7 linked regions of the Homo sapiens genome follow. The protein of the gene in region 6 purifies or fractionates together with the protein of the main gene of each other region. This does not show direct contact. Each region holds a gene or a part of one and is shown on either strand. Other genes may lie near its edges.

Evidence for each region.
Region 1: the proteins of DDX31 (region 6) and HP purify together in Homo sapiens (affinity purification with mass spectrometry; 2 studies listed by BioGRID and IntAct, with this or other methods). This does not show direct contact.
Region 2: the proteins of DDX31 (region 6) and BPIFB2 purify together in Homo sapiens (affinity purification with mass spectrometry; 2 studies listed by BioGRID and IntAct, with this or other methods). This does not show direct contact.
Region 3: the proteins of DDX31 (region 6) and MAGEB2 purify together in Homo sapiens (co-immunoprecipitation; 2 studies listed by BioGRID and IntAct, with this or other methods). This does not show direct contact.
Region 4: the proteins of DDX31 (region 6) and LTF purify together in Homo sapiens (affinity purification with mass spectrometry; 2 studies listed by BioGRID and IntAct, with this or other methods). This does not show direct contact.
Region 5: the proteins of DDX31 (region 6) and BPIFB1 purify together in Homo sapiens (affinity purification with mass spectrometry; 2 studies listed by BioGRID and IntAct, with this or other methods). This does not show direct contact.
Region 7: the proteins of DDX31 (region 6) and PIP purify together in Homo sapiens (affinity purification with mass spectrometry; 2 studies listed by BioGRID and IntAct, with this or other methods). This does not show direct contact.

Annotation. Positions count from the first base shown.
Region 1 is NC_000016.10:72,052,819-72,057,423, forward strand, and holds the start of HP (haptoglobin isoform 1 preproprotein), read left to right. Parts: upstream 1-1,686; 5' UTR 1,687-1,834; coding exon 1,835-1,839; intron 1,840-3,342; coding exon 3,343-3,425; intron 3,426-3,711; coding exon 3,712-3,813; intron 3,814-4,573; coding exon 4,574-4,605. UniProt on the Homo sapiens protein: As a result of hemolysis, hemoglobin is found to accumulate in the kidney and is secreted in the urine. Haptoglobin captures, and combines with free plasma hemoglobin to allow hepatic recycling of heme iron and to prevent kidney damage.
Region 2 is NC_000020.11:33,006,430-33,010,725, forward strand, and holds the start of BPIFB2 (BPI fold-containing family B member 2 precursor), read left to right. Parts: upstream 1-1,274; 5' UTR 1,275-1,331; intron 1,332-2,111; 5' UTR 2,112-2,145; coding exon 2,146-2,254; intron 2,255-4,296.
Region 3 is NC_000023.11:30,213,838-30,218,435, forward strand, and holds the start of MAGEB2 (melanoma-associated antigen B2), read left to right. Parts: upstream 1-1,725; 5' UTR 1,726-1,818; intron 1,819-4,598. UniProt on the Homo sapiens protein: May enhance ubiquitin ligase activity of RING-type zinc finger-containing E3 ubiquitin-protein ligases. Proposed to act through recruitment and/or stabilization of the Ubl-conjugating enzyme (E2) at the E3:substrate complex.
Region 4 is NC_000003.12:46,434,964-46,438,207, forward strand, and holds the end of LTF (lactotransferrin isoform 1 preproprotein), read right to left. Parts: intron 3,167-3,244; coding exon 2,977-3,166; intron 1,267-2,976; coding exon 1,232-1,266; 3' UTR 682-1,231; downstream 1-681. UniProt on the Homo sapiens protein: Transferrins are iron binding transport proteins which can bind two Fe(3+) ions in association with the binding of an anion, usually bicarbonate. Lactoferricin binds to the bacterial surface and is crucial for the bactericidal functions.
Region 5 is NC_000020.11:33,299,862-33,303,724, forward strand, and holds part of BPIFB1 (BPI fold-containing family B member 1 precursor), read left to right. Parts: intron 1-37; coding exon 38-123; intron 124-1,371; coding exon 1,372-1,551; intron 1,552-2,497; coding exon 2,498-2,551; intron 2,552-3,054; coding exon 3,055-3,213; intron 3,214-3,863. UniProt on the Homo sapiens protein: May play a role in innate immunity in mouth, nose and lungs. Binds bacterial lipopolysaccharide (LPS) and modulates the cellular responses to LPS.
Region 6 is NC_000009.12:132,663,138-132,667,000, reverse strand, and holds part of DDX31 (ATP-dependent DNA helicase DDX31), read left to right. Parts: intron 1-3,583; exon of another isoform or gene 3,584-3,629; intron 3,630-3,674; exon of another isoform or gene 3,675-3,776; coding exon of another isoform or gene 3,777-3,779; intron 3,780-3,863. UniProt on the Homo sapiens protein: May have DNA helicase activity and RNA helicase activity. Probably have ssDNA and RNA dependent ATPase activity. Plays a role in ribosome biogenesis and TP53/p53 regulation through its interaction with NPM1.
Region 7 is NC_000007.14:143,130,531-143,134,911, forward strand, and holds the start of PIP (prolactin-inducible protein precursor), read left to right. Parts: upstream 1-1,546; 5' UTR 1,547-1,586; coding exon 1,587-1,681; intron 1,682-4,381.

The sequences.
Region 1 (4,605 bases), on a different chromosome or scaffold from region 6:
GGACTGCAGATGCATGCCACCACGCCTGACTAATTTTTGCATTTTTAGAAAATATGGGGTTTCACCATATTCGTATTGGTTAGACTGGTCTCAAACTTCCGGCCTCAGGTGATCCACCCACCTCGGCCTCCCAAGGTGCTGGGATTACAGGTGTGAGTCACTCCCCAGCCTTGAGTATCTTTTATGTGCTTTTTGGCACTTTATGTATATTTTTTGGAGAAATGTCTATTTAAATCCTTTGCCCATGCTTTAATTGTTTGTCTTTTTGTTGTTGTAGTTAGGATATGCTCTGGATAACAACCCTTTATCAGATATAGAATTTGCAAATATTTTCTCCCATTCTGTAGACTGTCTTCACTTTTTTTTTTGAGACAGAGTCTTGTTCTGTCACCCAGGCTGGAGTGCAGTGGTGCGATCTAGGCTCACTGCAACCTCTGCCTCCCAGGTTCAAGCAATTCTCCTGCCTCAGCCTCCGAGTAGCTGGGATTAAAGCATGCGCCACCATGCCTGGCTAATTTTTGTATTTTTAGTAGAGATGGAATTTCACCACATTGGTCAGGCTGGTCTCAAACTCCTGACCTCATGATCCGCCCACCTCAGCCTCCCGAAGTGCTGGGATTACAGGCGTGAGCCACCACGCCTGGCCTGTCTTCATTTTATTAATACTGTCTTTTGATACACAAATGTTCATTCCGATGAAGCCCAATTTATCTAATTTTTCTTTGATTGCTGGTGATTTTGGTGTCATTATCTAAGAATCCATTGCCAAGTTTTACTTGGTTTTGATCTCTAGAAGACTGCCATCATACTGAAGGTAATCTTCTGAAACTTGCGGTTTTCTTTCAAAAATTATGTTTATAAGATGATCCATGTTCTTGCAGAGTTTATTCATTTTATGCTGTATAATATTCCATTATATCCACATACAATGCAGTATTGACCCTTCCTCCTGTTGATGGGCATTTGTCTTGTTTCTAGTTACTTTGCTATTATATCAGTGTCACCATGATTATCCAAAAGTAATTCTTTTGTACACTCTAATTTAAGAACAACTAACCCTTTTTAATGAATAAATCAACCTTGTATTGAGTTGCTACTAAGTTTCAGTTGACTAGTACCTGGGATACACACAGGTGCAGACATTTGACTGAGACATATTGATTTTTCTCATCTGCCTATTTAGGCTAATCACCAGACTATAAAACCATGAGAACCACTGCCATTGAGTATAGTCTGTGTCAGTCTACACTATAGCTTTAACTAGTTGTGTGATTTCTTGCAAAGAGCAATCAGAGAAGACACAATAAACACATTTACTGATTTCAGGCTGGAGAGCTTTTAAGCAATAGGGAGATGGCCACACACAAGGTGGAGAAAATTACTGTGAAAAGGAAGTACTTTCTTTAGAGCCCCACCTAAGCTAGGCTGCAGAAATGTCTACAATGGGTTTGAAAAAACTCAAAATGAGCCTTTCTGCAGTGTGAAAATCCTCCAAGATAAAGAGACAGATTGATGGTTCCTGCCGCCGCCCTGTCCTGCCCAGTTGCTGATTTCAGGAAATACTTTGGCAGGTTTGTGGGTCATAGAGTTGCCAGGTTTCTTGGGATTTGTAATAGAACATCACAAGAAAATCAAGTGTGAAGCAAGAGCTCAACTCTTAACAGGGGTATTGTTTGTGGTTTTGTTACTGGAAAAGATAGTGACCTTACCAGGGCCAAAGTTTGTAGACACAGGAATTACGAAATGGAGAAGGGGGAGAAGTGAGCTAGTGGCAGCATAAAAAGACCAGCAGATGCCCCACAGCACTGCTCTTCCAGAGGCAAGACCAACCAAGATGAGGTGGGTCCACAGCTTTCCCTCCTGCCTTTCCTCTGGTTCTTTATTTCAGTCTTTTTTGCATACATCGGTAGAGATGCAGAAATAGAACAAAGAAACGGGCAAATGGGCTAAATTATAGTGAACCAAAGGGCTTAGTGTGTTAAATCTTCTCCTTTTCTGCATCCATAGAAGACAGTGCTGCTGTCTTTCCCAGGAGATAAGATTTACTCTCAGGAGTGTCTTTTTCCTTCAGGTTACATTTTTGACTTTATAGGGTATGTCATCAGCTCCCGTGGTAGGCTTCCTGGCATCCTGAGTATATTTATTAGCAGATATTTTCCTCTTTAAAAATGTACAATAAGGAAGACTAATAGTAACACATTTGAATGACACAATTAATTGACTAGTACCTGGGATACACACTAATACCTGGGATACATCTAATTAAGGCACTTAGATCTTATAAAAATAAACACTTTTTGAAATGTTGAAATAATAAGACTAGAAACTTTTTTTTTTTTTGAGATGGAGTCTCGCTTTGTCACCAGGCTGCAGTGCAGTGGCATGATCTCGGCTCACTGCAACCTCCACCTCCCAGGTTCAAGTGATTCTCCTGCCTCAGCCTCCCAGGTAGCTGGGACTACAGGCGTGCGCCACTATGCCCACCTAATTTTTGTATTTTTAGTAGAGACGGGCTTTCACCATGTTGGCCAGGATGACCTCGATCTCTTGACCTCGTGATCTGCCTGCCTTGGCCTCCCAAAGTGCTGGGATTACAGGCATGAGCCACCGTGTCTGGCCTAGAAACTATTTTAATAGAAGCAAGTAGTGCCCGAATGGTTGGCATTTGTTAGTGAGATGGTGAACTGGCAGACGGCACCTGTGGGTCAATGCCCATGGCCACCGTCCTGCTTTTGGACACCAGTTCTCTTCCAGGTAACCTTCTGGCATTTTGGGGTTTCAGATACCATTTCCTAAAGGTGAATTATTATAAAATACTAGAAATACCCACGTGTTTAAAATTATATATTTAAGGAACCTTTTATTACGGAAAATATCAAGAAGTAGAGGAATAGCACAGTAAGCCCAAAGTTCCCATCTCTGAGTTATCTACATTTTATTACCACTATCTTTGCGGTGTCTGAGGGAGGTTTCTCTTTCCTGGAGGGCTCCTGTATTATTGCCAATGTACTTTCCTGAATGCAGCCAGAAACTGAGCCCACCCCTCCACCTATGTGCCTTTCTATCCCTCTCTGAAGCTTCTGCAGAATTCCCAGCAGGACAGGGCTTGCTGGAAGCTTGGTATGCTCAGAAGCTGCTAAAGTGTGTATGGGCAGGTGTGGGGGCAATTTCTTGGTCCTAGCACTTCCATATATCGACTTTCTTTTCTGGCTGCTAAGTGGGAGGAGTGTGTGTGTATGCATGTGTGTGTGTGTGTGTGTACATGCATGTGTGTGTGGATGCATGCATGTGCTGTGAAGCAGGGAGACTAGCTTTCCACTCCTCCTTGTCTTCTCTCTGCAGTGCCCTGGGAGCTGTCATTGCCCTCCTGCTCTGGGGACAGCTTTTTGCAGTGGACTCAGGCAATGATGTCACGGATATCGCAGGTCAGTCTTTGGTTGGGTAGGAGTGTGCATCCCACTCTGACCCTCTCGGGTCTGCACTCTCTCTGAGAACACCCAATTCCCCCTTCTTATCTCGACCTCTGGGCTTTCAGGACCATAAAGAACATTGGGGTTCCTGCCAGAAATGAGGGGAGCTTGCCTTTCCATTGGCTTCTATTCGGGGTGGAAGGAGATTGATGTGCAGAGCAGCTCCCGCTCATCTGACTTTTCACGGTTCACTGGGAACAATTTCCAAATAGCAAACTCTCTGGCTTCTCTCTCTTTGCAGATGACGGCTGCCCGAAGCCCCCCGAGATTGCACATGGCTATGTGGAGCACTCGGTTCGCTACCAGTGTAAGAACTACTACAAACTGCGCACAGAAGGAGATGGTAAGATGTGGACAACTGTCTCCATGCCCTACATACAACCCCCTTCTCTGACATTTCCATGATGGGTGGTGCTGAGGTGATTCGCCAGAAAGTTCGTTGCTCTCCTTGGAGCCAGGAGATTTAGATTCTAATAAGCGTTTTGTCGCCAGTAGCCATGGCCCTTTGGGCAGACTAACTTTTGTCAGCCTCAAGTTTTCTGTTTTGTTAAGGGGAGGCGATGCCATGCAGCCTACCTCATGTAAATCTCAGAGTCACATTTACATCTCCAGCAGATGTGGGAAAAGAAGGAATGCTGATGATGATGTCACCCTCACCTAGTGAGTCTTGCTGTCCTGGCACTGCTCTAAGGGCTTTATACTTATTTGCTCACTTAGTCCTCACAGTATCCCTCTGAACAGAGTTTATTGTTTTCACTTTGCTGATAAGGAAACTGAGGCACAGACAGGTTGAGTATCTTGCCCAAATTCAGGCAGCCTGTAAGAGGCAGAGTCAGGATTTGAACCCTGAGCCCTCCCTGTACTGCTTGGCTGTGACCGCCATGACCACAGTGTGTTCTGCTGGGCTTAACTGGTGTCCAGGCACTTGGCTTCCAGCACAGCACTCTTTCCCTTCCTCCTTCTCATATTCTCTCTCCTTTCTCCCTTCCTGTCTGCCTCCTTTCTTCTTCTTCTTTTTAATTCTTCTCCTTAAATGCCTTCTCACTCTGCTCTGGGTGCAGACTTGACTTTTCCTTTGGCTCATTTCTTGCCTTTTGTTTCAGGAGTATACACCTTAAATGATAAGAAGCAGTGG
Region 2 (4,296 bases), on a different chromosome or scaffold from region 6:
TGGTGTCTGTGGTCAGCTTTGTAGACACTGGTGGAGGCCTAGCACAGGGTGGGCCTGGGAGCTGGGCCTGATATTTGGGCTGGTGTGGGGTCAGTGGGAGTCAAAGAGTGCCCTGGAGTTGGGGAAAGGCCCCAAGTCATCCTGTGCCAATGAAGAAAAATGGAAAGGCCATCGCCTGCTGTGCACACATATATGCACACACACAAGAACATATATACATGTACCTCCCCATCCCAGGAAACAGTCCACTTGCATACACACATGCACCTAACACCACACACTCACAGACCCACAAACACTCAGTAGGCCAAGCCCACACATGCATACATGTACACAAAACTCCCCACCTCTGTGGTCCTGTTGGATTGTGTGAATAGACACACAACACCATAAACCAAGATGCCAACGTGCCCATTTCATGTCCACACTCACACATAAGAGCACACATTTTCCCCGTACATGTGACTATGCACACACACTCACATGCATGTATCAACACAACCCTCATCCACACATGTGCATATGCAAATTCCTTCATGCGCACACACAGTTCCTTGGGTCCCATCCAGCCAAGGCGGAGGCTGACGTTTGTAATGTGGAAAGAGACCGTGGACTAATCCATTGTGAGTGGAATGTGCATTTGGAGAGAGGCTGGGATGTTAAGCTGTGGGGACAGGTCACGCACACTTTCTCTTCTGTTCCCTTCTGAGTTAGGGCTCAGTTTGTGACTGGGATCAGGGCTCAGCATGTGATCAGGGTCAGAGCTCAGTAACTGGGGTCAGGACTCAGTGTGTGAATATGTGACAGGGTCAGGGCTCAGTCAATGACTGAGGATGGTGCTCAGGTAGCCTTCTGCCCCTCCTAAAAGGGTCATGTTTCCGAGAGAGCTTGGAGGTACCAGGCTTGAGGGGTCATTGCAGCCATCCCCTTGCCTATGGGAGGGGGGATGGGGTCCTCATGGGCCCCATCCTCCCAGGCCTTGGCTGGGCATGATAAGATACCCTCCTAGAAGCAGCTTTCCTTCCAGAGATCTCCTGGCCCTCACTAAGGCCATAGCTGCCTAGCCCCAGGGGCTTGTAGTGGTTGGGAGCTGGGCCTGGCTACTGGCTACGTGGCAGCCCCAGCGCACATGTGGGATGAGACACTTTGGCAAAGGCCATGTTTGCAGGGAAAACACTTGCAACCACAAGCAAACTCGCCGCTCCCTGGGTCCCTTCCCAGTGGACTCTGCACATTGGGAGCCTTATAAAGTAGCCTCTGCATCTGCCTGCCTCGGGCAGAGGAGGGCTACCCTGGGGCTGAGAGTTCACCTGTCTCAGGAACCACCTGAGGTAGGCATGGGGCTGGGCTGGTACACCACTTCCAAGGAGGCTTGGCTTCTCTATCTGTTCAGTGGGGATGCTACCTCCAGCCACCCTCTGCAGAAGGGTCCTTCCACCCCTGGCCTTGCTGTAGGACCTGGGCAAGTGCCGCCATCCTGGGTCTCAGCAGACCCACCTGAGCCGCAGTCCCTCACTCCTGCCTGGCTCCCTCTCCCTGAGTCAGACACAGATCTGCCTATTTGGCCAGACTGAGTCAGGAGAGGATGGGGGCCATGTGAGAGGCCTACTCTTAGGCCATTTACCACCTGGCCAGGAGGGGATGAGGACAGGAGCCACCCTGGGTCCTCCCCTGGCTGAATTTGGTGGACAGCTGGACACCAAGCTGGCTGTCACACGGGGCTGGACTCCGGCATCAGGTGATACAGTCCTGGGCATCTTCTTGGGACAGGAAACTACCCTCAGTCTCCCCGTTTGGGAGTCTCACCATCCTTCTATGCCATGGCTTGGGTCCTGCACCTGGTCCCAGTCCACTGTGTGGCCCTAGGCAAGACCATTTCTTCTCTGGGCATTGCGGGTCATTTCCAGAAGGGACTCCCCCATGATTCCTGATGAAGCAAGCAAGGCAAGGTGATGGTTCCCAATGCAGAGATGCAAAAACTGATGTCTGTGGGCCTGGGGCAGGGCTGGGATCACCAGTCAGGGCTTGTTCCCTCCAGGCTGGAGTGGGGTTCGGGTGGCTCAGGGGTGGGCTGTTTTGGCTGAGCTCCCTGATGCTCATTTCTACCCCAGCCCACAGATCCTGTGGGCAGCGGCCAGGGCAGCCATGGCTTGGGCAAGTAGGCTGGGCCTGCTGCTGGCACTGCTGCTGCCCGTGGTCGGTGCCTCCACGCCAGGCACCGTGGTCCGACTCAACAAGGCAGCATTGAGCTACGGTAAGCGGTGTGTTACCCAGTGAGTGTCTGTGAGCCTGTACATGCGTGTGCAATCCTAAGTGTGTGTGCGTAGCTGTGAACTCAAAAGGCCCATGAGGACCCAGATTTTAATTGGAAGTTGTGTCCCTGGCACCCAGACAGTGCCTGACACATGGCGCTGCTCAACAAATGCTTATTACATAAATGCGTGAGGGGGGAGTACGTCATGTGGCCAGTGTGCAAGTGTGCACATGTGACTTGCTCACATGCTTTGGTGATGTGGGCATAGGTCGGTTTGAGGGGCTATTTTTACCTGTGTGTGTCTACTTATGAGTTTGAAATTTCATAGAGCTGTGCCCACGTGTGTACTTAAGTGTCGGGGAGGGTGCAAGCCCATGATGCTGCCTGGATGTGTGTGCACAGGTACGGCTGTTCACCCTGGGTGTACACGTTTGCGTATGTGGTGTGTGCACGCACGTGTGTTCTTGGGAGAGGTCTGTCTAGCACCGTGATGCAAGGAGTGTTCTAAAGTTATATCCCTTCTGAGCTCAGCGTGAGAGAACCATCCGCTCTCTGGGTCCCACTTGTGCGAGGGCTCTGTCTTACGGCTGTGCTGCTAGATCCTTCCAAGTCTTGCCCCAATCCCCTAAGGAGGGCACAATGAAGAAACTTAGCCCCAGGGAGGGACAGACATTGCCAAGGTCCAGGACGCCAGCACAAACATGTTTATTCACCTCGAGTTGCCTCCCGGTGAGAATTTGGTTTCCCACCAAAGCCAGGAGATCAGAAGCGGTTTCCCCCAAGGCCAAACTCAGATTACAGTGTGAGAAAGTCAGGTCAGACAGTAGATGGGACCTTCAGTGGCCCAGGACATGAAGCAGTGGCTCAGGGAAGTAGCAGGTTTCCCCCACCCCTGGGTAAACACAGCCTTCCGGGACCTCATATCCGGGCTGATGGGCAGGCAATGAAAGGGGTCAGTGATCCGTGCCAGAGCATGACATGGAGCCATTCATGGATGCCTGCAGGTAGGGCCATGAGGCCCGCGCCCTCCGCCGCCTTCCTGCCCTCTGCCCATCCTGTGCAAGCCTCCTTTGTCCCCAGGGAGCCCTCCCCAGCTTGCCTGCCTGTGTTTGTTTTTGGCAGAAATCTGGCTGGAGGCCCACGCTGGACGCATTGCTCCCCAGGCTGGGCTGAGTGGCTACTTCCAGTGTCCTCCCCACCCCATCCTGCAAGCCCCAGAGTTCAAACCCTGCGTCAAGGGAGCACTGTAGATGGAGTCTGAGGTCTGGGTGTGAGTTCCAGCTCAGCTGCAGATGGTTAGGTGGGAGAGGGGTGCTGGGAAACATGGAAACCACCGCCTTTATGCTTCTTGTTGGGGGAGACTAAGAACCAGAGAGGTGCAGGGACTCCTCAAGTTCCCACAGTGAGTCTGAGCAGTGGGCAGGCCTCTTGACTCCTCATTTGAAGCTCCCTTCCAGCACCATCACCTCTTATTCTAATTCAACTCCTGCTTAATTAGCACCTCTCTGGGGCTCAGCAGCACAGGTGAGTGAGGATGCCCAGAGGCTCGGGAGCCAGGTCCCTCGGTCCAAAGCCAGCTTTCCCTGGCCAGGTGCCCTCACCTCTCTGTAAACTGGGCACGATAACAGGAAAAGTAAAGCACTCAGAACAGGGCCTGGCACTACAGGATCACAACATAAACGATTGCCGCTATTATTACAAAAATAAATAGCAATGGTAGAAGCTAGCATTTGCTGTGCACTGAGTGTTTACAATGATCCTATGTGACAGATACCATTAGAATCATTGCAGATGTATAGATGGGGAAACTGAGGCACAGAGTAGCCACACAGGCAGTGAGTAGCAGTGAGCACTGCGGTTTGAAACCAGGATCTGAGAGACTCTTGAGTCCTCAGCCCCCAGGTGAGGCTGTCCCCTCCCCTCCCAAGGGACGTCCCCTCTGCTCCCATGGGCGCCTCCACAGCAGGCCAGGGATGACTGGGAGATGCCCCTTCTGCTTGGGAACTTAGGGAAGGCTCCCAGAGGAGATGGGATCTGGTTGG
Region 3 (4,598 bases), on a different chromosome or scaffold from region 6:
CATGTCAGTAGATGCAGTTCAGCCTCTGATAGATATGAACGTGAGGACCCTGAATGAAGATGATGGAAGGACCCAGCCAGAACTGTGGGGTCCCAAAAAGTCCAGCTCAGGCTGTCAGCCCTTCAAAGTCCAGAACAGCCCTGGCTAAATGTAGCTCACCACAACTTCCAGTTCAGAGGTCGGCAGAGGGTGAGTACCTTGATCTGATGGGAACAGCCTCAGGTCAGTGGAGGATGGAGTGCCCCAAGACTGGCCAGGTGTCATGGTGAGGACCCTGAAGAGAAATAAGAGAACTGTTATAGGACCAACGAGTTTCTGTGTCAGCTGCAAAGTAACAGACCCACTATAATAAAACAGCAAAGTTTGCAGCAAAGAGTTTAATGATTGCAGGGTGCCAAGTGAGGAGATGAGAAGAGACTCTCAAATTCATCTCCCCAAGGAGTTCTGGGCTGGGATTTGCAAGGAGATCATGGAGGGCGAGGGGCTGGAGAACTGAGGTTGTTGATTCGTTGGGGTAAAGGGGATGAAATCATCAGAATGTGGAAACTGCGTTTTTTTTTTTTTAGTCAGCTCCTGTGGGGTCTTTTGGACCAGCTGATGTCAGTAGGGTCCTTTAGAGCAGCTGGCATCAGTGGGGTCCTTCAGACCAGCTGAGTCATTAGAATCATCAGTATGCAGGACCTTAAGGAATATCTCAAAGAAAAAAAGTTTCATTATGTTAAAATTGTTATCTATAGAGCAATTAAGGGCAACTATAATCTAGTAACAGGATCTACATGATTCTGGGATAATAGGCACCAAACTACTATGAGGAAGCAGGTCAGAGAGCAGCTGACTTCATGATTAATGCTGAATGTTCTGCAAGCTTGGCGTATCTTCATTTATCTCCCTTCCCTCTTCCCTGATTAATTTTATACAGTTCATAGGGGCAGTTTCAAAACCACCCACCCCAGAACAGAGGAGCCCACAAATTCCACCAATGCTGTCACCCTTGGGGAGCCCAGAAGAGAATTATGAGGTGGAGAAATCCCATCAATATGCCTCGTGTGTTTCACAGAGGTGAAGACCTTGGACTAGTGGAAATGGCCCTAGGTCAAAGAGACAAAACCCACGCCCTAACAGGAATCAAGGTGAGGATCCTAAGTGTTACGAGGGGGCTCTCCCCCTTGCAACACCAGCAGAGGGGGCCAAACAGAGCCCCTCGCCATTGTTAGCACCGAGAGGCCCCAAAATAAGTATCTCTGAATCCCCTTCATTCCACCTGTATAGTCTCGGGGAAGGAAGGGCCTTTGTCTGAAGAGGGTGACCCCAGTTGTGCAGAGAGAGAGTCTTGGCTTTCACGGGAATCAAGGTGAGGACTCTGAGGGCGGATGAGAAGACCTCTCCCCAAAAAAGGCACATTCACAGAGCCCTGCCGCTGCTGTCAGGCCTGTGAGGCCCAGGCAGGGGTGGCCTGTTTGGCACGCTTAGATTTCCACAGTGGGGGCTGAGGGAGGTGGGGGTATTGTTTGGAGGCTGGCGGATTTGGGTCAGCACGCATATTCGTCCCAGGCTGCTAGATACTGAGGTGAGGACCCCTAGTGGAGACGAAGGGACCAGCAACGCTAGAACAGTGACGTCCGGTAGCGTCCAGCCGTCAGCCCTCAGACGCCACGGGCTGCCGGATGTGAGTCATCCTGACTTCCGCTTTGAAAAAAAAGACCCGAGCGGATGTGGCTCATCCTGACTTCCGCTTTGGAGGCGAGGACCCGAGCGAGTGTAGGGGGTGCGGCGTCTGGTCAGCCAGGGGTGAATTCTCAGGACTGGTCGGCAGTCAAGGTGAGGACCCTGAGTGTAAACTGAAGAGACCACCCCCACCTGTAACAAAGAGGGCCCCACTAAGTCCCGCTTCTGCATTTGGTCCTGAGAGGCTCCGGTAAAGCCGTCCGGCAATGTTCCACCTGGAAAGTTCCAGGGCAGGGGAAGGGTGGGGGGAGGGGCAGTCGCGGGGGAAGGAGGTTTGGACGCAGGGAATAGGCCTCATTCTGCACGTAGGGTGGGTGTAGGCCCTAACTGAAATCAATTTGAGGGCCCTAAATGTGGACTGAAGAGAACATCTCCTACCCTTAACAAAGGTGGCCTCACTAAGTCTCGTCCCTGAAGACGGCTCTGGGAGGCCCCAGCAAAGCTGTGCCTGGAAAGTCTCAGGGAGGGGAGGGCCTTGAACCTAGGAAGCAGCCCTGCTTCTGCTCATATGGCATCAACCTAAAACCTAACTGGGGTTAAGGTGAGGACTCTGAGTATTAATGAGCGGACCTCTACCCAAAAGAGGAGTCATGCTGGGCAGTTCCCAGGCCGAGGTGACACTGGGTTTTAGATGGTCCCAGGCTGACATGACAAATGCAGAGCAACCTGACTTCCTCTCCCGGGACTAAAGAAGTTGAGGGCTACATCCAAGACCCACATCTGCTGCCAGCAATAGGAAGGTCAGGGCAAAGCTAGCAAGCTGAGATGCTCTCTAGTTTCCTCTGGAGGTGGTCTCAGGGAGGTGAGGGTCTTGGTGTAATGGGGTAGGTCTAATGCGACAGAGAGGCCCAGTCTCTAACAGGAAGCAAGGATGTGACACTGAGTGATGAGGAGGGGACTCCAACCAGAAAGAAGTGCCATATAGAGCCCACTCTTGTTGTCAGACCAGGGAGACCTGAGCATGGCATGTTGAGTTGTACTCACTCTCCCCAAGACATCTCAGAGAAGTGAACGACCCCATTAAAGAGGGCAGCCTGGCCGGGCGCGGTGGCTCACGCCTGTAATCCCAGCACTTTGGGAGGCCGAGACAGGCGGATCACGAGGTCAGGAGATCGAGACCATCCTGGCTAACACGGTGAAACCCTGTCTCTACTAAAAATACCAAAAAAAAAATTAGCGGGGAGCGGTGGCGGGCGCCTGTAATCCCAGCTACTCGGGAGGCTGAGGCAGGAGAATGGTGTGAACCTGGGAGGCGGAGTTTGCAGTGAGCCGAGATAGAGCCACTGCAGTCCGGCCTAGGCGAAAGGGCGAGACTCCGTCTCTTAAAAAAAAAAAAAAAAAAGGCAGCTTGAGGTCAGCAGAGGGAGGGTTTCCAGGTTGTGCCAGATGTTATGATAAGAACTCTGACGACTGCAGGGGGCTCCCACCCCATATTAGTGGGAGCCACACAATCCTCAGTACTGTCAGCTCTGAGAGACCCCAGGCAGAAATGTGAAACAGAGGTGCCCATCAGTTCCCACTCAAGGGTAACAGGGAAATGAGAGTTTTAATCTGAGGGTGGTGATCACTTGTCAACAGAAGTAATGTACTAATTGGTCCATTCTGGCATTACTATAAATACCCAAGACTGGGTAATTTACAAAGAAAAGAGGTTTAATTGGCTCACAGTTCTGCAGGCTGTACAGGAAGCATGATGCTGGCATTTGCTCAGCTTCTGGGAGCAGGGCTCAGGAAATTTACAATCATGGCAGAAGGGGAAGGGGAAGCAGACATGTTACATGGCCAGAGCAGGATCAAGAGGCCAGGGGAGGCGCTACACACTTTTAAATGACCAGATCTCATGAGAAGTCATCGTTAAGGGGAATGGTGCTAAACCATTCATGAAAAACCTGCCCTCATGATCCAGTCATCTCCCACCAGGCTCCACCTCCAACATTGAGGATTACAGTTAGACATGAGATTTGGTGAGGATACAGATCCAAACCATATCAGGGAAGAATCTTAGACCCTCTCATGAGTCAAATTTAGAGGCTGAGTTGGGACTGTATGTGGGACCATCTATCACAGGGCAGTTATCTGCCTGCCACAGCTTTTACTTTTGGGAAGACCACATTTGGTCAGATAAGGCCACCCTCACTTCCTCCTATGGGTTCTCAGGGATGTTCACTCTTACCATGACGACATAGGCCTCAGTTCAATAAAAAGGAGAGCTCCTCTACCAGGAGTCAAATTGAGGAATCTGAGAATTCAAGGAACCACTGAACCCTTAACAGTGGAGACATCAAAGAATCCAGTCCAACCCTTTATTTTCAGCCCTAGAAAGCTCAGGAAAGGGTTATCAGGTTTAGTGTCCCCCTCTCTTTTTTATATAAGATCTAAGAGAGGTGAGATTCTTAGTCTGACGGTGTAGCCACCACTCAGCAGAAGGGGGCTGGTGCCAAGCCCTACATGAAGCCAAGGTGGGGACCTTGAATGAGAGCTGAAGACTCTAATGATTCCAAGACATCAAAGACCCCACTGAACTCTCAGCACTGGGTGTCACTTCTCAGGGTGGTGGTTGAGGCACCCCTTCAATTTCTTCTCATGAGTCCCAGGGTGCTTTGAGGTGTCAAATTCACAGTAGCGGAAGGGAGTGGCTCAGGCCCTGCCAAGACTTCATATGATAATCCTAAAAGTTAACTGATAAAACCCCAAACACCAGAAGACAGGAGGCCGCACTGCCAGTACCTCCTGTCACCATAGTAAGCCCAAGGAAGGGCTGACAGAATGCAGTCTGAAACTCACTGTAGGGGTTCTGTGGTTCTTCTCTGGTGTCTCAGGGGAAAGGATAACCAGGACGACAGGAGCCTTGTGGCTTTCTAGAACAGTGCCTT
Region 4 (3,244 bases), on a different chromosome or scaffold from region 6:
AGAGCTATTCATCTCACTGACAGTGGGGAACATGGCCAAATGGTTGCCCCCACAATGGAGGCAGAGTTTCAGGACACTTGTCTGATCTCTGCCCTTGAAGGAACAGTCTCACCCTGATTGACACTTTTGCCTGTTATGTCCAAAGAACCAATGGAAAAGCAGGAAAATTATTCCTTCTTCATTTCTCTCTTCATTATTTAAAATTATTCTGTCTTCACTTCTCTCTCCTTTTCTCTGCTTCCTACTTAGCTCTTTAGAAATGCAATTATAATCTTTTATCTCCCCTTCACCAGACACTCCCAACAGGGCAAGTTCATCTAACTATGTGCTCTTAGTTAGACGCTACAGAGCAGAACTCTCTCCCACCAAGAGACTACCTTGAGACATAACAGTCAATTCACAAGCCAAAATATGCCCGCTATGAAACTCTCCCATCTGGAAATTTTTTGGCTGCTTTTACAACCTAGTTTTGCCCACAAAGGCACCAGCAGTAACCAACTCAACTGCCTGGTAGACAAGGCACCAAAGCCAGTACCCAGACCCTCTACCTGCTCACTTCCTGCCTTGCATGCCACGCCCCCCATTTAAAAGCCTCTGCTTTCTGCTCCAAAGGTGAAGCAGTTACCCTTAAGGAAAGAAGCCTGTACTTCTTCCCCTAAGGTAGCTTTGGAATAAAAGTCACTTTATACCAAACCTAGCTCTTGTTAATTAGACTCTGCAAGTGATGAGCAACTGAACCTACATTTCAGTTATAATTCCTATGCTTGCTCTTCCTGCCCTGCCTTGGGGACACGCACACACTCCCAGGCACATACATGCACGTGCACTGAGACAGCTATGTGAATAACCAACAAGATCCCCTTAGGAAAACCGGTGCTTGGCCTGGCCTTAAATTCCAGACCCTTGGGCATCATACCCAAGACTGCAAGAAAGAGGAGGGGCTGGACCTGAAAAACTTGGAAGGGAAGGTCCAACTGTACAGGTATTTTGTCAGGCATGTGATTTCAGTATAAAATTCTAGAAAAGATGAGTGACACTTTATAAGGAGAGAATATCAACAAAATTTCTCATTTTACTTCTTGCTAAGACGACAGCAGGGAATTGTAAGCAGATGGATGGGCAATCCCCACCTTCAGCAGGGGAGGCCAAGGCCCCAACACACCTGGGGAGAAGAGCTGGGGGCAGTGAATGGCTGAGGCTTTCTTGGGGAGCTGGGCCATCTTCTTCGGTTTTACTTCCTGAGGAATTCACAGGCTTCCAGGAGGGCTGTGGGACACAACAGAGCAAGAGATTCAGAAACTGATTTCTTCCATTAAACCAGTTATTTAATCCAATAAATCAAAGAGAATACTAAGAGTTTTCTCTGCCCTTCTCCCATCACTGAGTCAGTGCTTGCCACACTCATATTCCCACTCCCCTACTCCTAGCGACTACGGTGTTCAAGGGAGCCAGAGTCTAGCCCTCACCAGCCAGGGTGTTTCCCTGCTCTGGCCTGAGAGACACAACCACCCTGCACTTGTCTCTGATTGAATCGACTGTCACATTCTCAAGTTCACAAGACATTGGTGGTCCTCTAGCTTCTCCCGGAATGTGAACCTGTTTGCAATCATGTTCACCTGCAGATTCACTCATTCATTCACAGATCCTTACTGAGCACCTGCTTTGTGTGAGTTGCTGTGCTAAGTGCTGGGGACACAGCATGGATAGACTGGCCTGCCCTCAAGAAGCATGTGGTCTATGCAGTCCTGAGCTGGCTGCTCACAAGAAGAGCCCTGTAGCCATATTTCTCAGAGGGTGGTCCTGACCTGCATCACAGTGACCTGAGTTGTTTGTCAATACAGAAAAGGGTTTCTCAACCTTGGCACTATTGACATTTGGGGCCTGATAATAACCCTTTATTGCAGGGGGCTGGCTGTGCTTTGTTTAGTAGCATCCCTGGCCTCTACCTATTTGTTACCAGCAGCACCCTCTATGTTGTAAGAATCAAAAAAATGCTTCTCACATTGTCAAATATCCCCTCAGGGGAAAAATTGTCTCTCATTGAAAACTACCGATAAAGACATTTCTGGCCCTGCCCCCATCCTTGGACCAACAGCATCCCTAATGCCCCCAACTCTGGGTGAGGGACCAGGAATAGGAATCTGAATGATTGCAGTGCACAGGGAGCTGTGCACACTGAAATCCCACAGTTATCACCGGGAGCCTTACAATACTCTGTGATGTCTTCTAAATATTTTTAAGGGATTAAATTAATATCAACATATTTCCCTGGTTAAGATGTGTTTTCCTACACTTGAATTTTTTTGAGATTTTGTTTTCTCTATAGTTGGCATCTATGGTAACTGTCTAGAATCAGATTTTTTTTTTTTTTTTTTGAGGAAGGGTCTTTCGGTGTCACCTAGGCTGTAGTGCAGTGGTACAATCATAGCTCACTGCAGCTTCAACCTTCTGGGATCAAGCAATCCTCCTATTTCAGCCTCTCAAGTAGCTGGGACTAGAGGTGCTTGACACCACACCAGGCTAATTTTTAAAATTATTTTTGTAGAACAAGGTCTCTCTGTGTTGGCCACATTGGTCTCAAACTCCCGGGCTCAAGCCATCCTCCCACCTCTGCTTCCCAAGGTGGTGGGATGACAGGTGTGAGCCATCACACGTGGCTGGTTTTGTCATTTCTCAATGCATATGTATATATGCACCTTTCATTTTACTGAATAAAATGGATTATCAGTTTCCAAAGATTTCATGACAGTGCCATCACTATCCGTACTATAAAATTTATAAAAATTTATTACATACTGCTCTATTTTATTCTCTAATTATTTTATCAATGAGATTATAATTTCCTGAACTGTAAAGAGATATTATCTTTCCTTAACATTTTTACACCTGTGTTCGTTCCTAGAATGCTGTTTGGCCCTCAAACCTTGACCTTCACCCATGGTGGTTTCTCGGGGATGCTAGCTAGGGTCTACTTACGGGAGGTTGAGCACTTTTTCAGATTAGTAATGCCTGCGACATACTGTGGTCCCAAATATTTTTCATATGTTGTTTTGCCATGGAGTCTGGCCAGACACTCAGTGTTGTCATTGAACAGAAGGTTTTTGGTTTCAGACTGGAATAAGCAAAACTTGTCCGGGCAGTCAGATCCATTTCTCCCAAATTTAGCCTGCGACAAAAGGGCAGACAGTGAGTAGCTAAGGAAAAGAGGAATTTATGGGTTAAAGGAGGCAAAGGGGTATTTCTT
Region 5 (3,863 bases), on a different chromosome or scaffold from region 6:
TCCACCCTCACAGAACTTTCTTCTTGTCCTTGAGCAGTGCCCATTTCCCTCAGCATTGACCGTCTGGAGTTTGACCTTCTGTATCCTGCCATCAAGGGTGACACCATTCAGCTCTACCTGGGGGTGAGTGTCCCAGGACCTTGAGGGTGAAGTGGGGACATTGCTGCCCTTCTCTGACCACCAGGAGTCAGATAGCATGGGCCTGTGTTAGGAGAGAAAATCCTGGTCACCATTAGGACACGGGCTGATCTAGAAAAATCACTGCAGGCTGAATATGTCCCATGCAAGTTTGTTTTGTTTTGTTTTTTTGAGACTGAGTCTCACTGTCACCCAGAGTGACATGGGGGGGCCCGAGTGGGGACACTGGGCCCTCAGCCTTTCTCTCAGGCAAGTCCCTGCCAATCCCCAAACCTATGACAACCTTGAAACAAAAGCCAAGGATCAAGAAACACAGACCTAAGTTTCTCTCCTAGCTCTATGATTCCCTGGCTATGTGACTTTGGGCAAGTTCCTTTACCTCCCTGAGCCTCAGTTTCCTTGTCTGCAAAATGTCAGTAATAATGGCCACTGAGGAGAGGATGAAATGAGACCACACCATGCCTGGCAGACCAGAAGTGCCCAGTAACTGTCAGCTCCCTGTCCAATGTGGAGCTGCACAGCCATGCTGTGGCTGGACGCCCCAAAGGGCCAGACCATCCTGGTAGCATGAATCCCAGACTAGGTTTCTTTTGTTTTGTTTTTTTGAGACTGAGTCTCACTCTGTCACCCAGGCTGGAGTGCAGTGGTGCCATCACAGCTCACTGCAGCCTTGACCTCCTGGGCTCAAGCGATCCTCTCACCTCAACCTCCTGAGTAGCTGGGACTGCAGGCACTCGCCACCACGCCTGGCTAATTTTCTGTATTTTTTGTAAAGATGGGGTTCCGCCATGTTGCCCAGGCTGGTCTCAAACTCCTGGGCTCAAATGATCCTCCCACTTCGGCCTCCCAAAGTGCTAAGATTACAAGCATGAGCCAACACGCCTGGCCCCTGGACTAGTTTCTATGGATCCTTTGGAAAACTGCAGCATCAAATCGTTTCTTCCATTTTGTTGTAGTTTTTAATTTTCCCTCCATCCAAAGGGTTTGAGGTGTCTGAGAAGTTGAAGCATGGGAAAAAAAACGAAGATATCTGGTACAAAAAATAAAAGTCAGAGATTATCCGAGGGGCAAAGATGGAGTAGATGTTGCCACACACCTGAGCTCCAGGCTAAGCTTCCTGGCAACAAATGCACAAAAAGGAAACAGGCTGAATGGTGTCATTTCCTTCTAGGTTGCTATTGGGTAAGCTGCAGAGTTAAAATTCTTAGCTGACTCCCTGCTCTGTCTCCTCAGGCCAAGTTGTTGGACTCACAGGGAAAGGTGACCAAGTGGTTCAATAACTCTGCAGCTTCCCTGACAATGCCCACCCTGGACAACATCCCGTTCAGCCTCATCGTGAGTCAGGACGTGGTGAAAGCTGCAGTGGCTGCTGTGCTCTCTCCAGAAGAATTCATGGTCCTGTTGGACTCTGTGGTAAACCTCAGCACAAGGCAGAGAATAGGGCCGCCCAGGCCACATCATAGGAATTTCCTGAACACAGGGTGCCCCTAAGCAGGAATCCTCCATCAGGCTCAGTTTAATGGAGATCTCACTCCCTCCTCTAATAGACCCTGCCTCTGACATAGCTCTAAACCTAAAATCCTCCCGGTAACATCCAGCCCCAGTCATGGTTCTACCCTCTGGAATCTGATGCAAATGTTTCCTCTACCAAATAACAGTCTCGTGAAATCAAAAGGCATCTTAGATATGCAGTAGTCCAGGGGTGATAAATACATCTCAGATAGTGAGTAGTCCAGGGATGGCGACTGTGCCACTGCTCACCACTATGACACTCATGGCAGACATCACTAATCGATCAAGGCTCTCCTTTCTACTGAGTCTGGATGCTGACACAACCTTGGAATCCTTATTAACAGGGCACAGCCGATAACCACCACCAGTCAACTATGTTGTGCCACCTCCTCCCGGGTGACTGACGGGGAAATTGAGGTCCAGAGGGGGAAAGGGTTGGTCCAACGTTATGGGAGGATGGCAGAACTTCAGGGCAGCTGACAGACAACCAATAACCAAGCTCTCAGGGGACTGGGATGGCGAGAAAATAGGGAGTGGTCACCAACTAGCCCATTCATGATTGCAGTAAAAATGAAATCACCTCTCTATGTCCTCTGAGATCAGGAAGCTGCCCCCAGACCCACAACCATCACCAGCCCACAGTAAAAGTCCAGGCCAGCAGGACCCCATGCCCCATAGAAGCTGACCTAGGGGCTGTTTTTCCACCAATGACAGACACATGGCTTGGGTCACTGGGCCCACCCAGCTTTTCTGGGGTCCTGGGAAACCTTCCTCCCAGCAGTGGGGTGCAGGAGATGTGCCTCCCTGTGCCCTCCAACTGACCTTCTCTGGCTCCTCTCACCCTCAGCTTCCTGAGAGTGCCCATCGGCTGAAGTCAAGCATCGGGCTGATCAATGAAAAGGTTGGTCTGTTTGCCATCTGCAGCTTGAGGGGTGTTTGCTGTGGTCTGGACACAGGCCTCTGGGGAGGAGAATCTAGTGGGACTAGTGTTTCATTCCAGCACTGGGACACTCAAACCGCATCCCTGTCCGCACAGAGATTTCAGTCTAGCAGGCCAGTTTGACCTGAAGCAAATCATCACATGGATAGTATTTCCATTACAGCTGCAGTAACACAGGACAGGTTCTAGGGGCCATGAGAACACTCTGGGCCCCTGATACAGTCTGGGACGTCAGGGAGGCCTCCCTGAAGGGAAGGGCATTCCAGACAGAGGGAACAGGAGACCAAAGGCTGCCAGGTAGGGAGAACAACACAACATTCAAGGATCTGCAAGAAGGACAGGGTGGCTGGAACACGTGAGGGAGCAGGGAGCCCAGGAAGGCAGGCAGGGGCCAGGCCACACACAGAGCCTGTGGGCCATGGTGGGCACTTGGGAGGCCACATGTGGGTCTGATCTCCTTCCAGGCTGCAGATAAGCTGGGATCTACCCAGATCGTGAAGATCCTAACTCAGGACACTCCCGAGTTTTTTATAGACCAAGGCCATGCCAAGGTGGCCCAACTGATCGTGCTGGAAGTGTTTCCCTCCAGTGAAGCCCTCCGCCCTTTGTTCACCCTGGGCATCGTGAGTTCAGTTGTCTGCGATATTGGCAGCAACCAGGGGGACCCTTCTGTCTACTTTTCCTGTTCGCCCTCTTGCTTTGTTAAACATTTCCACCACTCTCATCACTTAGCAGGGACAGGGGACAGGGAGCTCTGAACCAAGAGCCAGGAGCTTTGTGGGTCCAATTCTAACCCTGTGACTTTCTTAGTCAGGAATCTCTGGACAGAAACTCAACTCATATGCACAAAAGGAATTGTATTAGCTCCTATAACTAAAAAGTCTAGATGCTATTGACTTCGGGAATAGCTGGACCCAGGTGCTCAAACAATATCCTCTTCATTCTCCTCTCTCCCACCTAGCAGCCTTGTTTTCCTCTGTGCTGCCTTCATCCTCAGGCAAGCTATTCCCTCATGGTAGTGCCCCAGGCTGCATTAGGCTCATATCCTATCAGCTTGGCAATCACCGCAGGAAGAACCTATCTTTCCAATAGTTCCAGCAAACATCTCAGGGCTGACTCTCACTGAATGAGCCTGAGTCAGTTGCCCATTCTTGAGCCAATCAGTGTGTCCAGAAAAATGGAATATGAAAACTTCCTGAGCTGGGCCACCTACACACTAGGGTAAGGGAGTGAGGGCTCTATGAATAGTGGCTGCTTTCGTCGTCGTCATCGT
Region 6 (3,863 bases):
TGGCTCACGCCTGTAATCCCAGCACTTTGGGAGGCCGAGGCCGGTGGATCACGAGGTCAGGAGATCGAGACCATCCTGGCTAACACAGTGAAACCCCGTCTCTATTAAAAATACAAAAAATTAGCCGGGTGTGGTGGCTGGTGGTGGGTGACTATAGTCCAAGCCACTCGGGAGGCTGAGGCAGGACAATGCTGTGAACCCAGGAGGCGGAGCTTGCAGTGAGCCGAGATTGCGCCACTGCACTCCAGCCTGGGCGACAGAGCGAGACTCTGTCTCAAAAAAAAAAAACAAAAACAAAAAACAAACACAAAAATAGCTGGGTGTGGTGGTGGGTGCCTGTGATCCCAGCCACTCGGGAGGCTGAGGCACGAGAATCACTTGAACCCAGGAACCAGTGGAGGTTGCAGTGAGCAGAGATCACTGCACTCCAGCTGGGGTGACAGTGTGAGACTGTCTCAAAACAAAAGCAAAACAAAAAAAAATTTCTGATATTAATACAAATTTATTATAGAAAATTAGGAAAAAAGATTTTTAAAAACCCACTCATAATTGCCATACTCAGACAATGCTTGTTGCCATTTTGGTGTATGTCCTTTTAGAGAACAACTCAAAATTGGAATCACTACACATGATGTTTTCTTTTTTTTTTTTAACTTATCAAAAATTAAGAATTATTATGAAGCTCTATTTCTTCAGACAGTCTGGAATAAGGTGCAAAACTGTACAAATTGACCAGCAAAGGAGAAAAGAGAGCCCAGAAGCAGACCAATACAAAAATGGAAATTTTATTCATGACCGAGATGACACTGCAAATTGCTTAGGAAAAGCTGACATTTTTAATAAGTGGCACTGGAACAATTGGTTGTGTGGTTGTGTGAATTTAAAAACTGAAATTGGAACCTTATCTCGCACTATGTATAAAAAACCAAATCCATGTGGATTAAGACTATACAAGGCAAAACTATAATGTTGAGCAGAAAGAGTAAGTTTCCAGCATACACATGTTTTCTAAAGCAAAGAGGATGCAGTTAATAAAAGGGATTATAGTATTGTTGTGAGGCCTCTAGAATGTAGAATCATGATGCCTGGGGAAAGCCTGGTTCCTTCAGTGATTCTGGGACAAATTACGTCACATCTCTGCCTCCATGTTTGCATCTTAAAATGAGATGATAACAGTACCTGTGTTGATAAATGAGAGAATACATGTGAGTACTTAGTATACTCCTTGGCATATAGTAACTACTCAGTATGTTTATTAATATCAAAGCCATGGCATCTTAGACTCTCAGGTCTTGATGGGCCCTAGAGGTCATCTGCCAAAATCCCCTCATTTTACAGGTGCGGCAACAGAGACTCAAACGAATTTTTTAGTAGATTTTTAGTAGATTTTAGATTTTTAGTAGTAATTTTTAGTAGATTCAGATATGTCCTTGCTCCCTCTCTGCTCAGAGGCTACCTCACGAAGCATTCTTGGTTTTCTTGCCTCCCTCTCCTTTGCCAGAAGGAGGCCATGTTAGTCTAGCTTTTGTTGGTGCTCTCATAGCCTTTTTTATGTACCTCTTCTGTAGCACCAATGTAGAGGTTGGATTTATGCCTTTATACTTTTGTCTCCTCTGCTAGTGTGTAACTTCCTCAAGGGCTTGGCAAATCTACTTTGTATCTTCAGAACGAAGCTTCTTGACAACTGCTAAATGAATGTGTTTTGGATGCTGGGGGAGAAAAGCTAACAAGTAGTAGAACCGTATCCAGCTGGTGGAAAGGGATAATTCCATTGTGTGTTATTCATTCATCTTACAAGTATTTGTTGAGTGCTTACTCTGCCAGACAGGGGCCTATACAGGGGATACAGTGCTATGTAGGACAGACTGGCCCCTTTCTTGTGGAGCTTACAATCTAACGGGAAAGACAGACATAAAACAACGAGTTCCGTGCTATGCTTATTATTTTGTCGAATGCTATGGAGGAGAATACGGGTGCCAGGAGAGCCAAGAACAGAGCACCTTGGCTTGACTGGGTGAAGAGAGGTCAGGAAAGGCTCTTCTGAGGAAGGAGTTGGTCAGCCTCCATCTGAAGGATGAGTACAGGGTGGCCAGCCAGAGGGCAGAGTGGAGTCCTGGATGTGGGAGTAGCATGTGCAAAGGAGGAGGAAGGAGCACAGCACATTCTAGGAACTGAAGGAAGACCCGAGTGGCAGAGAGTAAAGCTGAAGCTGGTGAGGTGGCCAGAGGTCAGATTCTAGAAGGCTTTGTTGATCATATTACAGTTTTTTTTTTTTTTTTTTTTTGAGCGAGGGTCTTACTCTGTCACCCAGGCTGGAGAGCAGTGGCATCATGGCGTCATCACGACTCAATCCAGCCTTGACCTCCCGGGCTCAGGTGATGCCCCCAACTTAGCCTCCAGGTAGCTGGGACTACAGACATGCACCACCATGCCCAGCTAATTTTTGTATTTTTTTGTAGAGACAGGGTTTCACCATATTGCCCAGGCTGGTCTCGAACTCCTGGCCTCAAGCAATCAGCTCACCTCAGCCTCACAAAGTGCTGGGATTACAGGCATGATCCATGGCACCTGGCAATATTACAGATTTTTTAGTTCAGCCTAAGAGCAATGGAAAACCTAATGGGTTTAACTCTGAGTACTTGCTTTTAGAGAGATGTTGACATAGGAATAAAGGGTGACCAAGATGATAAAGGATCTAAAGTTGTGTCCTGTTTGAAATATTGAGTCCAAAGAAGAAAGAAAAGAGAGTTATGTGATATATGAAGGAATGTTATGTGTTAAGAGGAAGTAAGCTTGTTCTGTGTTGCTGCAGAAAGTATACCTCAGACTATTAGGTAGATGTTCAAGGATGCAGATCTTGCATAAATGTCAGAGACAGCTTCCTGATTCCTAGAATGGGTCATGAACAGAATGGGCTGCCTCATGGGATGCAGGAGGTGTGCAGGGAGAGGCTGCCAGTCCACCTGCCCGGGACTGTCAGGAAGTCCATGTATGGCGGGAGTGGCCTTTAAGAGTTTTTGTGCTCCAGGAGTCCTGGGTCTGTAAATCAGGTGAAGTCTGCACATTTCATACTGTCTTGCAAATGATTCAACAAACCTGAAACTTGATTTCATCTCTTTCTTTAATCTGAAAATTCATAAACTTGAGATTTTGTAAAAAATAAATTTGTAAGATGGAATATGTCCGTTTTTACTTTATTAATATTAGATATTTGAAGTTGTATTTAATTACTTAGGTAAAAGAATCCTTAGGGAACAAAGAACTGTTGTTATTGGTAGGTTAGTCTGAAGCTGACAGTCATGGCTAAAGAAAGCCGACATGTAAAACCAAGTCATTATTTCAAGCAAAGAGGAAAATAACATATTCTGAGAGAACCCAAAACTCCAGAATAACAAGCACTGGCTACTCAAGGGATGCTTTTATATTCATTTGTAAATCAGAAAAGAAGGCCAAAGAAAATAGAGGAATTGGATGTTCCTTCTCCTAGGGGAAGTTTGGACATCATGCATTTAAGCACATTCCTGTAATGGAAATAAGAAGCAACAGGCAAGAGATCCCTAGTGCTGTGTAGCCTGTAATCCGCAATCAGGCAGAGACTCGGGGACTCAGAGACTCGAAAGGCAAGGGAGGTAGGAAGTAATTGTGGTAGAGGTGATGGATGGAGCAGCATTCTCATTTGGAATGGGAACAGGGCGTAGGAATTTTCTCCAGGCCGTCTGAATCTGGAGGAGCAGCTTGAGAGGAGAGAATGAGAGAGATCCAGGCGCTAGGGTAGAATGGTAATGAATGTTTCCGCTTCCTGGGCACGGGCTGAGATGCGCATTCCCCCTCGCCCCTCTCTCCTGTGCGGTCTCCAGTGTGCT
Region 7 (4,381 bases), on a different chromosome or scaffold from region 6:
AAGGACAGGGCTATGCCTTCAAAGAGCCAAGCAAAGAACTTTTCCTGCATTTTCCCACACAGACACTTCCTAGATTCTTCTGCCTTATGCCTGCCTTGGTCAGTGTAGCTAGGATGTGCTTCAAATGGAAATTATGCAAGTGAGAAGGACCAGGTGTAAAGACAATTTAATTGTGGGAAAAGGCTTACAAAGGAAGGTCATTGTGACCCTCACAAGCAGTGTTCTTGAGTGGATAGGACATAAACAGGGAAGAAAGCATGTGATCATGAGAACAGCTGAAGTTCTGAGTGAGCAATGACATGAATGGTGTCCAATTCAAAGAAAAGAGAAGGTAGATCCAGGAGCTGAATAAACAGACAGAGCAATTTTGAGAGATACATCCAGAAAGCAGAAGCACACACTTACACTTTAGCTCTGAATCCTGGCTAAAGCAACATACAGAGGCGGTAACTCCTAGAACTCTGATTTTCACTCTGTTGCCAGAGAGGCTCTTCCTGGGCAGCTGTGTGCCATGCAAATGATAGAAACAAATCCCATAGTATTGTAAGTCATAGGTTAAGGAGCAGATTTAATTTCATAAGGAGAAATAACACAATGCCAGTGTCAGCAAGAGCAAGTCTCCCCATCATCCCAAGGAGAGGAATTCTACAACCTGGGTATCTACTGGACATAATGTGGGCTCCATTCTCACAGAAGGAATCCTTTCCACTGTGGTTCTTCCTGTGTGGCTTACGCATGAGACAAGTGTAAGAAAGTGGCCATGTCAATAAGAAAATAAGCCAGCTCTTTGGTGCCAAGAAGTCTGATTTGGGGGTGCCAGCTATTTATAGGAATTGTCTAGAATTAAAATATCACCCTGCCTTGGGGATTGTGGGGCAGCTGGGGATCTTGGACATCTGCAGTATATTGCAACCACACCTGAAATTAAGAAGGACTCAATGACAATAAACATCTTTACATCACCCAGTGTCTTGAACTCACTTCCCCATCATGTAGAGCAGCTCAGGTCTTCTCTAGCTCTTCCACCTCATGATGGGTAGTGACTGCTAGGGAAGTCCTGATCATCCTAGCCCTCCAAGAAATGTTTTGAATAGCATTGCATCTTGAACTCACTATAATTTGATCAAGCAAAGATGTTCTATGTCTCTGGTCTGAAACCTGCCACCACAGCTGTGTTCTCTGCTTTCAGAGACCAGGGGAGCAGTGACTGAAGCTAAGACTACACATAGCACTTCAGACAGGCAAATTAGGAGGGAAAAGAAAACTGAATCTGTAAACTCGGGAAAAACTGGTGTATCTTTTGAGGTCCCAGCCATTTTGAGAAACTCTGATGCTGAAAAAATAAGGAAGAACAATCTGACTCCTCTCTCAAACGCTGACATTCTAGCTGAGTGTTGATTTTTTCTTAGAAAAACAAACTTTGGGTCAACAAGGAAAGATCACGAGTGGGGAGGGTGAATGGGTGATTCACCTCATGGATCTCCCTGGCAGCTCTTGCACTTCCTTGATCAATCTGTATATAAGAAATGTGCTGGGCACCTGGGACACCACTTCTCTGGGACACATTGCCTTCTGTTTTCTCCAGCATGCGCTTGCTCCAGCTCCTGTTCAGGGCCAGCCCTGCCACCCTGCTCCTGGTTCTCTGCCTGCAGTTGGGGGCCAACAAAGCTCAGGACAACACGTGAGCCATGCCCTTCTCCTCCCCACAAAAAAAATTGCAGGGAGGGCTCCTCTCCCAGTCTGGAAATTACATATCTCTTTCTGAGAATTTCTTTCAACTTCCCAGAACTCTAGTCCCAGGAGCTCCCATGGATCTCCTGCCAGGTTCCACTTCTTGTCCTCTTAGGAAGCCCCACCAACTCCTCTCACATTTTTGCTGGGTGTTTCTGCATTGCCAGTGGAAATAAAGCTCCAAATGTACCTACAGGCTGTAATTAGTAGTTAGTCTTCATCTAACATGCTGATCCACATCTTGTTCATAATTTATACCTTTGTTCAGATTTCTGCTCAGTAAACTTTACCTTCTCACACCTTGCCTCCTAGAAGAGAAGCATAACAGGTCTGTGAATTCCAATGGCAGCTTAGGGCAGCTTTGGCAGGACTGGCTAAAGGACCAGAGGCCCTGGCCACTGCCCTGTGGTCTGAGATTGAGCTAGACTGGCAGCTTAGACATTCTTCCTAACCTGAAGTCTGAAGATGAATATGATGACCTCTTGCTCTCACGTATACTGGGACCTGAGAGCACAGGTTCAGAAGTCAACTTATTGAGAACACATGTGTGAAGGAAGCAGAAAAATTGGAGCAAGTAAAATAAAGTAGAAAATGGAGCCAAGGGTCTGGGAGAAAGCAGCGATACCCAATCTAGGGAGTTTTCTCTATAGCAGTAGGGTTTATAATGCTGGGTTTCTGGGTTGTGATCTTGGAGGTACTCTCTATGGCATGGTCAGATATCCTGTCCTGGAGGAAACTGTTCAGGGTTTTGACAAGCTAATGTAATGGAGGCAAGTGTCCCAAGAAACCCTGCATGGGGACAGGTTCAGATCCCACCCCATTCCCGCCAGATGACAGTCCACTTAGCCCTGAAGGGCAGCAAGGTATTCAAATAAGCTATGCTAATTAGGTTATCAACCATCCATCCTGATTTGCCCAGAACTTTCCTGGTTGTAGCACTGCAACTCTGCCCTCCCCCGCCACCTCCACAACCCATTCTGGAAAAGACCTCAGTCCTGGGTAAACTGAGATGGTTAGTCACTCGAACTAAGCTGGTCATCCTATCAATCTGAAACTCATATACAAATGGGAGAGATTTTGAAGTTGCTTAGGTATTTATACCCTTTTCCTGTGCACTGGGCACTACAGCAGTTGGCACCAAAAAATAGAATCTCTCTAAGATGCTTTGCCCCAAGAAAATGGGGCTGTGAGACACTGTGGGCTAAGAATCTCAATTCCCTTCTGTCCCACACAATAACAAAGGTCCGTAGCCGGGAGTTTCTAGGGACGAGAAAATAACTCTCCTGGCCCCGAACCCAGTCCTCATTGACTGAAGAAGAACATTTGACCATTTTATTTGTCTCCATTTCCTTTCCTTTTCAGATTGCAGTGTATGGTCTAAATGTAGAGTAGTATCTAAAGTTCCCAAACATGGCCATATGTCCAAATTTCCTAAGGAGCTAAATAAATACAAATTCCTAAACCCTACCTGGGGACCACAGAAGGAGGATCTTCAAAGATGCTCCTACAAATACCTCCAGTGCATTGAGATGTTTGCTGGGTTTTTAAAATTTTTTATTATTTTATTTTATTTTTCCATAAGTTACTGGGGTACAAGTGGTATTTGGTTACATGAGTAAGTTCTTTAGTGGTGATGAGATTTTGGTGCACCCATCACCCGAGCAGTATACACTGCACCATATTTGTAGTCTTTTAGCCCTCACCCCTCTCCCACTCTTCCCCGCAAGTCCCCAAAGTCCATTGTATCATTCTTATGCTTTTGAGTCCTCAAAGCTTAGCTCCCACATATCAGTGAGAACATACGATGTTTGGTTTTCCATTACTGAGTTACTTCACTTAGAATAATAGTCTCCAATCTCATACAGGTCACTGCAAATGCTGTTAATTCATTCCTTATTATGGCTGAGTAGTAGTATTCCATCATATATATATATATATATATATATATATATATATATATATATATATATATACCACAGTTTCTTTATCCACTCGTTGATTGATGGGCATTTGGGTTGGTTCCACAGTTTTATAATTGTGAATTGTGCTGCTATAAACATGTGTGTGCAAGTATCTTTTTTGAATAATGACTTCTTTTCCTCTGGGTAGATACCCAGTAGTGGGATTGCTGGATCAAATGGTGGTTCTATTTTTAGTTCTTTAAGGAATCTCCACACTGTTTTACATAGTGGTTGTAGCAGTTTACATTCCCGTCAGCAGTATAGAAGTGTCCCCTGATCACTGCATCCACGCCAACATCTACTGTTTTATGATTTTTTGATTACGGCCATTCTTGCAGGAGTAAGGTGGTATCGCATTGTGGTTTTGATTTGCATTTCCCTGATCAAGAGGTTTGCTGGTTTAATGTGATTCTGTTGCTAGAAAATTTTCTCCTAATAATGACTTGAGCCCTCCTACTCAGTAGACAACCACCAGAGCCTGTAGGATGTTATCAGGAAGTGGCATGTGGTATTGTACATTTTTTCTTTTTAAAAACTTGTTTTTGGTCAATGGAAGGGAAGAAGATGCTCGTTCATTGATGGGCATTTGGGTTGGTTCCATGATTTTGCAATTGTGAATTGTGCTACTATAAACATGCATGTGCAAGTATCTTTTCTAAATAATGACTTCTTTTCCTCTGGGTAGATAC